2 separate regions of the Homo sapiens genome follow, and region 2 is linked to region 1. Evidence: fine-mapped expression QTL. Tissue or cell type: sun-exposed skin. Region 1 holds a variant in brackets; the other region holds the start of a gene. All regions are shown on one strand. Distances are between the middles of the regions.

What was found. PIP is the estimated chance that this variant, and not a neighbour inherited with it, causes the effect.
Region 2: GLO1 starts here. The variant in region 1 is fine-mapped to the expression of GLO1 in sun-exposed skin (GTEx, PIP above 0.99). The same link has a PIP of 0.9 or more in esophagus mucosa, minor salivary gland and unexposed skin.

What each region holds. Positions count from the first base shown.
Region 1 is chr6:38,752,235-38,760,234 of GRCh38, forward strand. DNAH8 (dynein axonemal heavy chain 8) reads left to right here. Exons shown (of 93, transcript NM_001206927.2): 10 at 3,738-3,845. Among named protein-coding and RNA genes, the nearest start is that of DNAH8, 41 kb to the left of the region's middle. RefSeq lists an enhancer at 3,380-4,579. The variant T/G (reference allele first, on the strand shown) is at 3,151.
Region 2 is chr6:38,700,037-38,708,036 of GRCh38, forward strand. It overlaps GLO1 (glyoxalase I), which reads right to left and starts at 3,109. Exons shown (of 6, transcript NM_006708.3): 1 at 2,935-3,109. The coding sequence starts at 3,018. RefSeq lists enhancers at 2,251-2,843, 2,876-2,925, 2,946-3,045, 3,226-3,385.

The DNA of each region.
Region 1 (8,000 bases):
CTCACTGCAACCTCCGCCTCCCGGGTTCAAGCAATTCTCCTGATTCAGCCTCCTGAGTAGCTGGGATTACAGGTGCATGCCACCATGCCCGGCTAATTTTTGTATTTTTAGTAGAGACAAGGTTTCGCCACATTGGCCAGGCTGCTCTCAAACTCCCGACCTCAAGTGATCTGCCCGCCTCCACCTCCCAAAGTGCTGGGATTACAGGCGTGAGCCATCGGGCCCAACACTTTCAAATTAATTTAATTTGTGTCTGATATCTGTGTCAGTATTCTTCACTCTAATTTTTTAAGAAGTAGTCAAATCTTCCATATAGGTGGCAGCACTGGCCACATGGTTTTGTTGACCAACCTTCTTGGGTCAATGTAGGTTTCATCCCAGAGGCAGGGAGAAGGAAAGAGGTTATGGCCTATATCACTTAGACTTGGAGAAGAAGGAGGTGTAAAGGCAGTTTATAATCTTTCCAAGAGAGTGTTAGTAGTCAAGAAGTTTAATATGAAAGGGGAGGGAAAAATGTCAGTTGAGAGTCTTGGACAAGTGCATTTCTTACTGCCATGAGGAATCCATTATCCATCAGGGAGCACCATGAGAGGGGACAGGAAGACTTTAGAAGCAGAGTCTTTTAATTGAGTCCATAAAGAGATTGTCGATTTTATTTAAAACTTATTAGTATTATTTGCAAAGAGATGACTTTTTGAAAAATTACAGCTTTATTTTAGATTCGGGGGTACATGTGCAGGTTTGTTACATGGGTATATGACATGATGCTGAGGTTTGGGGTATGGATGCTGTCACCCAGGTAGTGAGTACAGTACACAATAGGAAGTTTTTCAGCTCACACCTCTCTCCCTTCCTCCCCACCAAGAATTATGACTTTCTTAAACTTCATTCTTCTCATTTTTACCCCTGCTACTAGTAGCTGGACTTGTGTTGTGAACCTTTGTAAAATTTGTTTAATATAAGAACATTTATACTATTTCTTAGGTATTTCTGTGCACGTGACCCCAAGTAAAGAAAATCAAATTGTATATGGTGTTGGAGAAGTAAGGCCTTTGCTTGGCTTACTTGGCAGCTCAATGACTTAATTCCCCAACTTTACAATGTGAGCAATTAAAATTTCTGTCCAAGAAAAATTAAAATTATTACATGTCACAAGCATTTCAGATTGCTCACAAGATTTGAAGATGCAAATATGAAATACACATAATACCTAAAGCCTACTCCAGGGCTACCGCAAGTAGCTCTTGATGTGAAAAAATAATAGATGAAGTGAATATGGCACAACGTTCACGTTTGTCAAATCTAATGATGGGAGTAGGTGGTCATTATATTTTTCTCTGTACTTTTCTATATATTTAAAGCTTTTTATTATAAAAAGTAAACTTGAAAGAAAGAATACTCTTCATTGCTATCAAGACTCCAAATTTTAAGGTATACTGATTTCAACTTCTTGATTCAAAAGACTTGTTTTAATTCATATAATTTAAAAATCATTTAGTTCTGATGTTTTTTTCATCCTAGTAATTTTAAAAAGCTTTGTTCAATTACTCTAACCATGGATGTGCCTTATTATTGTTATTTTGTTGTTGTTGAGCTTTTTATATTCTCTGATGTAGGAAGGTTTCAAGCATCACCTTTTGAAATGACAGAAGTACTAATAGCATTGAGTCATATAATTGCTTCCCACTCATACACCCACTATATCTGTACTTTCAACAATTCCTTTTTCCCCCTCATTTTCTTTATTCTGATTAAAAGTAACCAGCAATTGCTGTTTAGTTTATAACTGTCATTTGGGTAGGAAAAGTGCAGGGGATTCATGCTTCCATTTCTGGTTCATAAGTTTTATGTATGTTTCATTTTTTTAATCACCCTGGTATTGTGCTTTAGGCATATCTTACTATTATATGTTTGACATATGAGATATCTGAGCACTGTATATAGATGGACAAGAACAGTGCACTCAAGGAGCTACTATTGTAAATAATGATGTTTAAAGTTCAGATGAAGGACGTTTTCCTGAAGGACCCATTTGATGCCATCCCTGAGCCCTCTTTATTGGAGTTTAGTGGTACTTTGTAGACATGACTTAGGAAGGGTGGAAGGGACTCTTTCTAGGCATATTTTTATTAGGATCTTTTTGATCTACAGATACCATATATAATATGAATTCTGGCCTAGAAGGTTAACTATAAAGTAATGGTGTTAATTTCCATAAGCCACATAAAACTGATTTAATTATTCCATAGTTATACCCCACACCTAGGACATACCGTACAGTAATCGGTAGTTGTTTTTCTTGGCTGTATTTCTTCCATCACCATTAAAAACACATTTTATATATTTTATCTTGTCTTATCAATTAAAAGGAAAGTTCCTTGAAGGGAGGGATGCCATTGGCTTTGTCTGTTCTCCTGTAGTGATTTGCATCACGGTTAGAAGCAGGGTCTCAAAATCTCCACTATGTAACTTACAGCTGTTGGATCTTAGGCAAGGGACTTAACTTCTCTACCTCTCTGTTTTCTCATTTGCAAAATGGGAATAATGATAATACTTTATTTTATAGATTCTAAGACTTTTTTTCACATTTTAATATCCCTGAACTCAGGACATACTTTAGTCAGTTAGGTTTTGTGAATCATTGTGGATGTGACTTGATACTACCTTAAATTATTAGTTCTCTCCTTGAGGGTGTTTTTTTTGTTTTGTTTTGTTTTTGATTTTGGTGCCATTCGTATGAATTCAGACTGCAGTTGAGTACCTGTGCATACATTCTCAAAGAAGTTTGATTTCTTTCCTCCTCCTGGTAGCATGTACATTTTGTTTCTCTCTTTTTCTCCATGGTTGGTTTATTTCATGTTTACCTTAACAGGGAGGACCCACTGGTGGCCTAGTATTATGTAGGAGTTAGATTCCTCATCTTGGGTGTCTTTTTTCTTTCTTAATAGCACAGAAAATAATGGTGCAATCTTACAATCCGTGATGTTTTATATCTGATGTAATCAAACCTACCTTCAAGGGTTGTTGTCAGCATATCTTAGAATAATATGCTAACGCTCTTAGCCTAGTGCCTGGAATATAGTAAGCAGTCAGTTTATGTTCAGGATTGTTTTATATCCTTGTTGTACTTGTTCTGCTTTGCTCTACCTT[T/G]TTCTACTTGTTTTACTTGTTTGTGTTTATCTCTTCTGCTCTGTTGTGAGCTACTCATGAATAGGTTTGGATTTCTTCCAATATCTTCAGAGCCTAATGGCACTTGGTAGGATTGCTAAAACACGAACTGAGTTGCATAAAAGAAAATGAATGCTAGTCTGATTTCTATTTTAGCTGGGCTTATGACCTTAAGAAAGTCACTTTACCCCTCAAGGTATCAGTTTCTTCACCTTTAAAAAGAGCAGAATGAACTATTAACCTTAAAATGGCTCTCACCTCTAAAATTTAATTTTAGATAAACTTTTAAGTTCAGATTTACAGAAAAGTTGCAATGATAGCACAGAATTCTCTTTACCCAGTTTCTCCTGTTAACATCCTGTATTACCTTAGTTTGTTTGTCAAAACTAATGTCCTGTTATCTGTTCCAGGGTCTAGTCTAGAATACTGCATTGGATTTAGTAAAATTTGACTTTAAGCTAAAAATGCTATACTATTTTGTGTACCTTTAGAGTTTTGAGTATTATAGAATATTGGTTATTAAAACTATATGCATATGATGGAATTCACTTAATTTGTTTCAATGTTAGGTTTCCATGGCACATGGAATACAAAATTTGATTAATGCCATCAGAATGATTCACGGTGTGTCAAGGTATTATAATACCTCAGAGAGAATGACCTCATTGTTTATCAAGGTAAGTTTCTGTGGGAGGAAATTACATGTCATCCTGTGAAAAAGTTAGCAAATCTTTCCTTCTGAGCCCTAGGAAGGGAATTTGGAAGCCTAAGTGCCTCTCAGAGTTTTAATACTTCCAGTGGACAAGAAGAGAAAGGCGTTGACTGGACTCAGTTGTACTTAATTGAAGGGAGTAATTGGTACTTTTCTGTTTATCAGATGTAAGCCCCAATACTTAAAGAAAATGTGCCTGGTGGTTTTTTAATTTATTCATTTCAAATAGTTTTGATTCTACCCAAGAGATAGGAGTGTGTCTACTATTAACAGTGCTTCTTTAGCTACTCCCATGAACACTATAGTTTGTGTAAAATTTTCCTGTGTAGCGCCGCATGGTTAATTATTTAAAATAATTTTTTAAAAATGATTAAACAATATATATTTAAATTTGCTAGCCAATGTCATTCTTTTTTTTATTATACATTAAGTTTTAGGGTACATGTGCATAATGTGCAGGTTAGTTACATATGTATACATGTGCCATGTTGGTGTGCTGCACCCATTAACTCGTCATTTAACATTAGGGATATCTCCTAATGCTATCCCTCCCCCCTCCCTCCACCCCATGACAGGCCCCAGTGTGTGATGTTCCCCTTCCTGTGTCCGTGTGTTCTCATTGTTCAATTCCCACCTCTAAGTGAGAACATGCGGTGTTTGTTTTTTTGTCCTTGCGATAGTTTGCTGAGAATGATGGTTTCCAGCTTCATCCATGTCCCTACAAAGGACATGAATTCATCGTTTTTTATGGCTGCATAGTATTCCATGGTGTGTATGTGCCACATTTTCTTAATCCCGTCTATCATTGTTGGACATTTGGCTTGGTTCCAAGTCTTTGCTATTGTGAATAGTGCCGCAATAAACATACGTGTGCATGTGTCTTTATAGCAGCATGATTTATAATCCTTTGGGTATATACCCAGTAATGGGATTGCTGGGTCAGATGGTATTTCTAGTTCTAGATCCCTGAGGAATCGCCACACTGACTTCCACAATGGTTGAACTAGTTTACAGTCCCACCAACAGTGTAAAAGTGTTCCTATTTCTCCACATCCTCTCCAGCACCTGTTGTTTCCTGACTTTTTAATGATCGCCATTCTAACTGGTGTGAGATGGTATCTCATTGTGGTTTTGATTTGCATTTCTCTGATGGCCAGTGATGATGAGCATTTTTTCATGTATCTTTTGGCTGCATAAATGTCTTCTTTTGAGAAGTGTCTGTTCATATCCTTTGCCCACTTTTTGATGGGGTTGTTTGTTTTTTTCTTGTAAATTTGTTTGAGTTCATTGTAGATTCTGGATATTAGCCCTTTGTCAGATGAGTAGATTGCAAAAATTTTCTCCCATTCTGTAGGTTGCCTGTTCACTCTGATGGTAGTTTCTTTTGCTGTGCAGAAGCTCTTTAGTTCAATTAGATCCCATTTGTCAATTTTGGCTTCTGTTGCCATTGCTTTTGGTGTTTTAGACATGAAGTCCTTGCCCATACCTATGCTCTGAATGGTATTGCCTAGGTTTTCTTCTAGGGTTTTTATGGTTTTAGGTCTAACATTTAAGTCTTTAATCCATCTTGAATTAATTTTTGTATAAGGTGTAAGGAAGGGATCCATTTTCAGCTTTCTACATATGGCTAGCCAGTTTTCCCAGTGCCATTTATTAAATAGGGAATCGTTTCCCCATTTCTTGTTTTTGTCAGGTTTGTCAAAGATCAGATAGTTGTAGATATGCGGCATTATTTCTGAGGGCTCTGTTCTGTTCCATTGGTCTATATCTCTGTTTTGGTGCCAGTACATGCTGTTTTGGTTACTGTAGCCTTGTAGTATAGTTTGAAGTCAGGTAGCGTGATGCCTCTAGCTTTGTTCTTTTGGCTTAGGATTGACTTGGCAATTTTTTGCCAGGGCTCTTTTTTGGTGCCATATGAACTTTAAAGTAGTTTTTTCCAATTCTATGAAGAAAGTCATAGGTAGCTTGATGGGGATGGCACTGAATCTATAAATTACCTTGGGCAGTATGGCCATTTTCACGATATTGATTCTTCCTACCCATGAGCATGGAATGTTCTTCCATTTGTTTATATCTTCTTTTATTTCCTTGAGCAGTGGTTTGTAGTTCTCCTCGAAGAGGTCCTTCACATCCCTTGTAAGTTGGATTCCTAGGTATTTTATTCTCTTTGAAGCAATTGTGAATGGGAGTTCACTCATGATTTGGCTCTCTGTTTGTCTGTTATTGGTGTATAAGAATGCTTGTGATTTTTGCACATTGATTTTGTATCCTGAGACTTTGCTGAAGTTGCTTATCAGCTTAAGGAGATTTTGGGCTGAGACGATGGGGTTTTCTAGATATACAATCATGTCATCTGCAAACAGGGACAATTTGACTTCCTCTTTTCCTAATTGAATGCCCTTTATTTCCTTCTCCTGCCCGATTGCCCTGGCCAGAACTTCCAACACTATGTTGAATAGGAGTGGTGAGAGAGGGCATCCCTGTCTTGTGCCAGTTTTCAAAGGGAATGCTTCCAGTTTTTGTCTATTCAGTATGATATTGGCTGTGGGTTTGTCATAAATAGCTCTTATTATTTTGAGATACATCCCATCAATACCTAATTTATTGAGAGTTTTTATCATGAAGGGTTGTTGAATTTTGTCAAAGGCCTTATCTGCATCTGTTGAGATAATCATGTGGTTTTTGTCTTTGGTTCTGTTTATATGCTGGATTATGTTTATTGATTTGTGTACGTTGAACCAGCCTTGCATCCCAGGGATGAAGCCCACTTGATCATGGTGGATAAGCTTTTTGATGTGCTGCTGGATTCGGTTTGCCAGTATTTTATTGAGGATTTTTGCATCCATGTTCATCAGGGATATTGGTCTTTTTTAAAATAATTTGAGAAATTACTCAAGCAACACATGAGACCAGGCATGGTGGTTCAGGCTGTAATCCCAGCGCTTTGGGAGGCTGAGGTGGGAGGATCGCTGGAGCTCACGAGTTTGAGACCAACCTGGGCAACATAGAGAGACCTTGGCTCTACAAAAAAAAATTTTTTTAAGTTAGCTGGGCATGGTGGTGTGTGCCTGTAGTCCTAGCTATTCCAGAGGCTGAGGCAGGAGGATCCCTTGAGCCTGGGAGTTCAAGAATGCAGTAAGCTGTGATAACACCATGGCACTCCAGCCTAGGCAAGAGAGAAAGACCCTGTCTCAAAAAACAAACAAACAAACAAACAAACAAACAAACCACCACCAACGAAAAAACCCACATGAATAGAATTTATTTGTAAATTATTCAAGCATAACGAAATATATAAAGTCATAGTCACATTTTAAGTTTTTTTAAAAAGCAAAGTATAGGCTTAATCACTATGTCCTAAATACGACAAGACTCTCAGAATCCTTCCTCTTTACCTGTCTCTCTCATTCTTGCCATATATGTCCCACATTGAGATCATTTTTAGTTCTGACAATGATTCTTTGCTTGGCTTCTGAATCTTCTGGTAGGCCCACCTTTGCACTTTCTAGTGAAATCTAGTTTGAGCAAAGAACCCTGCTAAGTCAGTTTAGCAAGAACCCCCCATTCTTGATATCTGATGACTCTAGATATCTGATCAGGTTTTCATTCCCCCCAACCCCCCAGGTGTTGTCTGATCACTTTGGCCTGTCTTCAGCAAGAATCCTGTTAGGTCAGTTTAACCAAAATCCCCCTTACCTCTGATGTTTCCTCTTAATAATTTTCCACCCACTGACTCCCATCCTGCCCCTTGGCTATACATTCCTGCTTGCCCATGCTGTGTTCAGAGTTGAGCCCAATCTCTCTTTCCTGCTACAAGATCCCATTGCAGTGGTCCCTATACCTATCACAATGGTCCTGAATAAAGTCTCTTGCTTTGCAAGTATCACTGAATAATTTTTTAACAGTTCCATATTATTCTTAACATTTTTTTCAACATTGTGAATCAACAAGTATTCAGACTAAAATCCAAGTATTGCTAATTTATTTATCACCACTGTTTTGTGATTCCCACATCTTTTTCCTTCTTGGATTCATTATTTCTTTTGCTGAAAAAATTCTTTCAGAGAGGTTTCAGGGTGGTGAACTTCCTGGATTTCTACATGTCTGAAAATCACTTTCA
Region 2 (8,000 bases), 52 kb before region 1:
AATAAAAACTTGCTGGTCTAAGACTCAGGTGGGCATCACAGTCCTACTGATATGTGATGTCACCCCCCGGCAGCCCAGCTGTAAAATTCCTCTCTTTGTACTCTTTATTTCTCAGCTGGCCAATACTTATGGAAAATAGAAAGAACCTACGTTGAAATATTGGGGTGGGTTCCCCCCGTATCAAAACACATTTTTGCTAAGATGTTTCCTTCATCAGAATGCCTTCCCATGTACTCTGCTGGAATCCTACCCAATCTATCAAGGCATAGGCCCATCACCACCATCTTTTTGATGTGTGCCCTGATCCCCACAGCTGAAATACAACCTTGAATTGTATCACTCTTCATAGTTTAGAGAACATAATACATGTCATTTTATCCTCATAGCAGCTCTCTGAGATATCTTTATGCTCCTTCTACAAACTGAGCCCAAGTGCCCTGGCAAGGTCACTGCAGCCAACAACAGAAGTGGGGATTCAAATGCAGGTCTTCAGGCTCCAAATACCCTGTGCATACCCCATTCCACTAATGCTACCTTTAAAAACCTCTACCTCCCAGGGTGCTCTCAGGGTGATTTATATTTCAATAGCACACTAACCCCAGGTCCATTGTATATTAGAGTTGATATAAGTTGGTGAAGGGAGGGAACCTCATCTTGTTTATCCCAGTATCCCCAAAGTACTTACCATCTTCTTTACATATAGCATAAATGTATCAAGTGATCAAACTGAATTTAATTCATTGAGGGTTTTTTTTTTTTTTTGGACAAAGTCTCACTCTGTCACCCAAGCTGGAATGCAGTGGCATGATCTCGGCTCCCTGCAACCTCCACCTCATGGGTTCAAGTGATTTTCCTGCCTCAGCCTCCCAAGTAGCTGGGATTACAGGTGCCCGCCACCATGCCCAGCTAATTTTTGTATTTTTAGTAGAGCAGAGTTTTGCCATGTTGGCCAGGCTGGTCTCGAACTGCTAACCTCAGGTGATCTGCCCACCTCGCTCTCCCAAAGTGCTGGGATTACAGGCATGAGCCACTGCACCCAGCCTTCATTGAGGTTTTTTATTTTCCTTTATGGCAAATTCCAAAATTACTGCTGGAGTCAGCACCCCAGAAGCAGAACAGGGTGGAGGTTGGAAGTGTGGGGTCCTCCCTGGGCAAATCACTCAACACCTCTATGTGCCTGAGTGTCCTTATTTGTAAAATGAAGATCATAATTATGCCTTCTTCATAGGGTTGTTGTTAGGATTAAATTAAACAATGTACTTAAAATACCAAGCCAGGGCCTGGCACACTCAATATATACCAGCTATTATTATGTATTCCATTTTATGTCTCCCATGGCCAAAAATTACTGATCTCAAAATTAATTACTCCGAATCATCAAGAGAAATTTAGATACTGTGGAATGTAAATTAAGCTGCAAGGACATTTACTTAGTATATTTTATAAAGATATCCCTGGAATCCTTTTTATTTGAAAACCCCATTACATAAAACCCCTAGTTATCTGGGAAAATACTTTACACTGAGTGACTCAATTTACATTATATGAAAAAACCAGGTATTAATATTAAGGGATATACAAGTGAGATGGGCATGACGGAATTTTTTTACCTTCCCCCTTAATTTTGCAATGACTAACATTTTTCCTAAGCCAAGTACCAGGTGCTAGTCAAAAGTTTTAGCAATGAGATGTGTCTGACTCTTTGCCCTGAAGGTAAAGAACAAGCAGGGACCAGAGTCATGGACCACTTATCTACCCCTTTTAAAGGTCTGCACGAAGCACATATTCAATCTTCAAGGAATTTACAAATGATGTAGTCAAATAAATAAATACAAAGGTGTTTACAGACACTGATGACTTCACTGGAATAAACAGCGGTTACTGTGCCTGAATTTTTTTTTTTTTTTTTTTTTAGACAGAGTCTCACTCTGTCGCCCAGGCTGGAGTGCAGTGGCACGATCTCAGCTCACTGCAAGCTCCGCCTCCCGGGTTCATGCCATTCTCCTGCCTCAGCCTCCCGAGTAGCTGGGACTACAGGCACCCGCCACCACGCCCAGCTCATTTTTTTGTATTTTTAGTAGAGACGGGGTTTCACCGTGTTAGGATGGTCTCTACCTCTTGACCTCGTGATCCGCCCGCCTTGGCCTCCCAAAGTGCTGGGATTACAGGCGTGAGCCACCGCGCCCGCCAACTGTGTCTGATCTTAACAAGGCAACCGAAACACCACACCTGAGTGAGTTACACTGATTCTTACCCAGTAAAGACATGTTCGGTAAGTGAAAGCCTTTGTATGCAACAGGTCATTTCTCTTACTGGGTCATTACTGTAAAACGAGAGGGTAAGAGAAGGAATTTCTAAGATTCCTTTCAGATCCAAACTCTATGATTCTGTAATCTCTCCTGGGCCCCACGAAGATGAGGAAGGCAAGAAGGGCTGTTGTGACCCACAGCAAAGGCCAAGCAAGCAAAAGTGAAATTCTGGGCGCGGTTAAACTTAGAGCGATCAAATTAGTTTGCAGGAGTTAAGACTGCAGTCAGGGTGGTAAGGAAAAACGAGGCTGGGCAGGACTGGTACAGGACAGGCATCTTTGAACCTATTTCTGGGAGTTCTGAAACTACTGTTCTCGTGGGCCTTGGCGACTGATTTGGGAAAGCTGACCCTGGGTTGGCCTGGCTTCCAGCCACCGTCGCAACATAAACAAGCCAATTCAAAACAGGGTCGCAGTCTTTGAAACTAGCTGAGGCAACAGATCCCCTCCACACTTCGCGGGCCCCACGATCGCCCCATCAAACACCATTATCCCTCTTCCCATCACACTCCCGTCCGCCCGAGGCCGGCGGACCTGCAGCGGCGGCGGGATGGGGTTGGATAGAATGCGGCCCGGTCCCGGCCCAGCGGAGCTGGGGGAGCCGTTCCCTTCGGTCCTGTGCCCACCTTGGTACTGGGGTCCGCGTCGGAGCAGCAACTGAGGGCGGCCTCGTCCGTGAGGCCGCCGGACGGGGGCTGCGGTTCTGCCATGGCTGCGCTGCAGTATCACAGACGACGGGACCCAAGGAACGGAGGAGTCACCCACACTACGCCTCGGCCCTGTGCCGCCTTAACTAGGAATGGCGCGATGGCGCCGCGGGCGGGAGACCGCTGACTTCCAGCCAATCGCTGCGCGGAGAGCAAGTTGACTCTCTGCTGATTGGGTCCCAGTGAGTCAGCGCCTCCACCCACAGGACTATGCCTCAGACTACAACTCCCAAGGAGCCTTGCGCATAAAGGAGGCAAACTCATACAAAAAAAAAAAAAAAAATGCAGGCTGGGCAGAGTGGTTTCTCTGTTACTTAATGAGCTAATTTTGTTTGTTTAACTAAAGTTTGGTAACCATTCATACCTCAGGGCTGCAATTTGGTAGAAAATTGGAATCTGATGGAAACTGAAAACTGTAAGTTGTTCTTTTAAAATTGTAAGGATTCAGAGGTTTCTCAGTTTACGCAGCGCAGAGTAATTAAAACAATTGTTGAGTCGAAAACCTATGTTCAAGTCTTGGTTCCGCTATATATTAGCGCTAGAAACTTGCAATAATTACTGACCCTCTCTGAGCTTCCTAACAGGATTTGTTGAGAATTAAATAAGTTTTCTTTTCCTTTTTCTTTTTTCTTTTCTTTCTTTCTTTCTTTTTTTTTTTTTTTTAATTTTTTTAACAGTGTCTCGCTCTGTCGCCCAGGCTGGAGTGCAGTGGTGTGCTCTCAGCTTACTGCAGTCACTGCTGCCTCGACTTCCGGGGCTCTAGCTGTCCTCTGGCCTCAGCCTCCCGATTAGCTGAGACTACAGGCTGCAAAACCAAGACCAGTTAATTTTTGTATTTTTTTGAGATGGGGGTTTCACCATGTTGCCCAGGCTGGTCTCAACTCCTGGGCTGAAGTGACCCTCCCGCCTCAGCCTCCCAAAGTGCTGGGATTACAGGTGTAGCCACTGTGCCCAGCCTAAATGAGATTTAAGTCATGGTTTGCCTACTTAGGTTCCAAATGTCCATAACTTGCAGTACTTTTTACATTAATATATATTTTGTGTTCACTGGAAGGCTTAGTCATCACTGTGTCTTCAATGATTGGCTCATAATAGTAGATGCTCATTAAATACTTCCTGTTGTTAAAAGAATAAATGGGAATGACTGGTGCTCACCTAACCAAAATGAGGTTGGGCAGGGATGTATATGGCACTAGCCACCTGGCCACCACCAAGATGTCCCCGTCTCTCATCTCAGCTTTTTTCTGCATCGCAGCTTCAGTTTGTCAGACACCAGCTCCATAAGACTAGAAATTTGGCAGCTGTTCTCTCACTAGGAGTGGGAGTAAACTCTCCCTCTGGATTTTATCCAGCCAGCCTGGATTTTATCAAATTGGAAAATCCAAGAAGGAGCTGTGATTGGCCTGGCCTAGGACCTGTGCTTACTCCTGTGATTGAAGCACTGCGATTGGCAACCTGGATTAGGACCACCTGATTGGAGTTTGGGGAGGATCTGTTAGTTCCCTAAAAGAAGAGCGATGATGTTCTTATGAGAAGGGAGGATTGCCAGGCAAACTGAACCATGGATGTCCACTGCAAAATGATAGGCAGGATAAGGATTTCAGCAGAAATGTTGTGCATACCTCATACTAACTTACTGAGGATATTTCATCAAAACACAGTCTATTAGAACTGCAGGACTTCTATATGGAACTAGACCTTAAACCTTTTAAACTCGGGAATTGGAGCAATACACAAACTCTCCATATACTGTGTGTTACCACTGAATTATTGAAAAGACCCCCAAATTGTCTTCTTTTGCATTAATTTTCTTTTTTAGATGGAGTCTTCCTCTGTCGCCCAGGCTGGAATGCAGTGGTGTGATCTTGGCTCACTGCAACCTCCACCTCCTGGGTTCAAGCGATTCTCCTGCCTGAGCCTCCCAAGTAGCTGGGATTACAGGCACCTGCCACCATGCTGGCTAATTTTTGTATTTTTAGTAGAGACACGGTTTCACCATGTTGGCCAGGCTGGTCTCAAACTCCTGACCTCAGGTGATCCGCCCACCTCGGCCTCCCAAAGTGCTGGGATTACAGGCATGAGCCACTGTTCCCAGCCCTTTTGCACTAATCTTTCTGGTGAGCTTCTCAGACTATGTGAGATATAAAGCATGTAAATGAATAGGAAGACTCAATATCATAAAATATCAATTCATTTACTAATTAATCTGTTCATGTAATGAAATTCCAATAAAAATCCCAACAGAGTCCTTTCTTTCTTTCTTTCTTTCTTTCTTTCTTTCTTTCTTTCTTTCTTTCTTTCTTTCTTTCTTCTTTCTTTATTTGTTTCTTTCTTTATTTCTTTCTTTCTTTCTTCTTTCTTTCTTTTCTTTCTTCTTTCTTTCTTTCAAGATAGGGTCTCACTCTGTTGCCCAGTGTGGAGTGCAGTGGTGCTGTCTCAGCTCACTGCAGCCTCAACCTCTCAGGCTCCAGCAATCCACCCACCCACCCACCTCAGCCTCACAAATAGCTAAGACTATAGGCATGCACCACCAAAACCAGATAATTTATTTTATTTTAGTTTTTGTAGAGACAGCATCTCACTATGTTGCCCAGGCTGGTCTTGAACTCCTGAGCTCAAGTGATCCTCGCACTTTGGCCTCCCCAAAGTGTGATTACAGGTATGAACCACTGTGCCTGGCCCAGGGGTTTTCAATTAAAATGAACAAGCAGATTCTACATTCTATTTTTAGGGCCCCAAATAGGAAAGATATACTGAATAATAATTAAGTAGGGGAACATTCTCTACCGGATAACAAGACTTTGTACAAGCTACAGTAATTAAGACAGGATGAAAAAAAAAAAAAAGACAGTATGGTAGGGAGGCTGGCATAGATCAACAAATGGAAACTGTAGTAGACCACTCTAAGATAACCCCAATGATCCCCACCTCCGGGTCTTCACAGTCTTGTCTGCTTCCCTAACCTTGAGTATGGGCTGGATTTGGTGGCTCACTTCTGATACAAAGAGCATGATAGACATGATAAAGTGTCACTTCATGTCATTTCTGAGATTAGAGAATGAAATGTTGTGATTCTTATCTTGGGAGCTCTGTCACTTTCTTTGATCTCTCACTTGGAGGGTAAGCAAGTTGTCACGTTGTGAGCAACTCTAAGGAGAGATGCATGTGGCAAGGAACCAATGTCTCTGGTCAACAGCCAGTGAAGGCCAGACACCTGCCATCAGCTACACAGTAAAATTGCAAGTGGGTCCTTTTTCAGTAGAGCTTCAAAATGACTGCTGCTTTGGCCAACCTCTTAGTCACTGTCTTGTGAGAGACCCTGATCCAGAACTACCTAGCTGGACCATTCCCAGATTCTTAAACCACAGAAACTGTGAGATAATAAATGTTTATTGTTTTCAGCTGCTAAGTTTTGGAATAAGTTGTTGTGCATTAATAGGCAACCAATATACACACATACCATGTTTGTGTCTCTGTGTGTGTGTATATATATATAAATTTGGTATGTGTTATCTTACTGCTAGTGGGGAAAAGATTATTTTTTCAATGAATGGGGTAAGGACAATTGATTATGTATGTGATAAAAAAAGATCTCTATTTCATACCATAAAGGAAAACGTAAGTCCAAGAGGATTATAGACATAAATGTGAAAAGGCAAAACTTAAAACCTTGAAGAATAAAATATTAGAAAATGCCTTTGTGAATTCATGGTAGAAATTTCTTAATGAAGGCTGGGCGCGGTGGCTCACTAGCACTTTGGAAGGCTGAGACAGGTGGATTGCCTGAGTTCAGGAGTTTGAGACCAGCCTGGGCAACACAGTGAAACCTCGTCTCTGCTAAAATTCAAAAAATTAGCCAGGCGTGGTGGCGTGTGCTTGTAGTCCCAGCTACTCGGGAGGCTGAGGCAGGAGAATTGTTTGAACCTGGGAGGCAGGGGTTGCAGTGAGCCGAGATCGTGCCACTGCACTCCAGCCTGGGTGACAGAGCAAGACTCCATCTCCAAAAAAAAAGAAAGAAAGAAAGAAAGAAGTTTCTTAATGAGATATAAAAGCACGAAGTATAAAAGAAAGCTAAAACACACCCTAAAAGGTAAAAAGTTAAACCATAGACCAGGAGAAAGTATGGGCAACACACATAGCCAACAAAGGTTCAGTATCCAGAATATGTAAAAACTGTTAGAAATCAATGAGAAAGAGACACATAACTCGATAGAAAAAAATGGCCAAAAAGAAGAATAGGCAATTTACAAAAGAGAGAATAGAAATAGCATATATTCATATGAAAAATTGCTCCAAGTCTGCCCTACGTAGTGAAACCCCACCTCTACTAAAAGTACAAAAATTAGCCAGGTGTGGTGGCACATGCCTGTAATCCCAGCTACTTAGGAGGCTAAGGTAGGAGAATCACTTGAACCTGGGAGGTGGAGGTTGCAGTGAGGTGAGATCACGTTACTTGGGCGACAGAATGAGACCCTGTCTCAAAAAAAGGAAAGAAAGGAAAGGAAGGGAGGAAAGAAAGGAAAGGAAGGGAGGAAAGAAAGGAAAGGAAGGGAGGAAAGAAAGAAAGAGGAAGGAAGGAAGGAGGGAGGGAGGGAAGGAAGGAAGGAAGAAAGAGAGAGAGAAAGAAAGAAAGGAAGAAAGAAAGAAAGAAGGAAAGAAAGAAAGAAAGAAAGAAAGAAAGAAAGAAAGAAAGAAAGAAAGAAAGAGAGAGAGTCCGGGAGTGGGGGCTCACGCCTGTAATCCCAGCAGTTTGGGAGGCTGAGGCAGGAGGATCACGAGGTCGGGAGTTTGAGACCAGCCTGACCAACATGGTGAAACCCCGTCTGTACTAAAAATACAAAAATTAACCAGGTGTGGTGGCATGTGCCTGTAATCCCAACTACTTAGGAGGCTGAGGCAGGAGAATCACTTGAACCCGGGAGGCAGAGGTTGCAGTGAGCTGAGATCACGCCACTGCACTCCAGCCTGGGTGACAGAGTGAGACT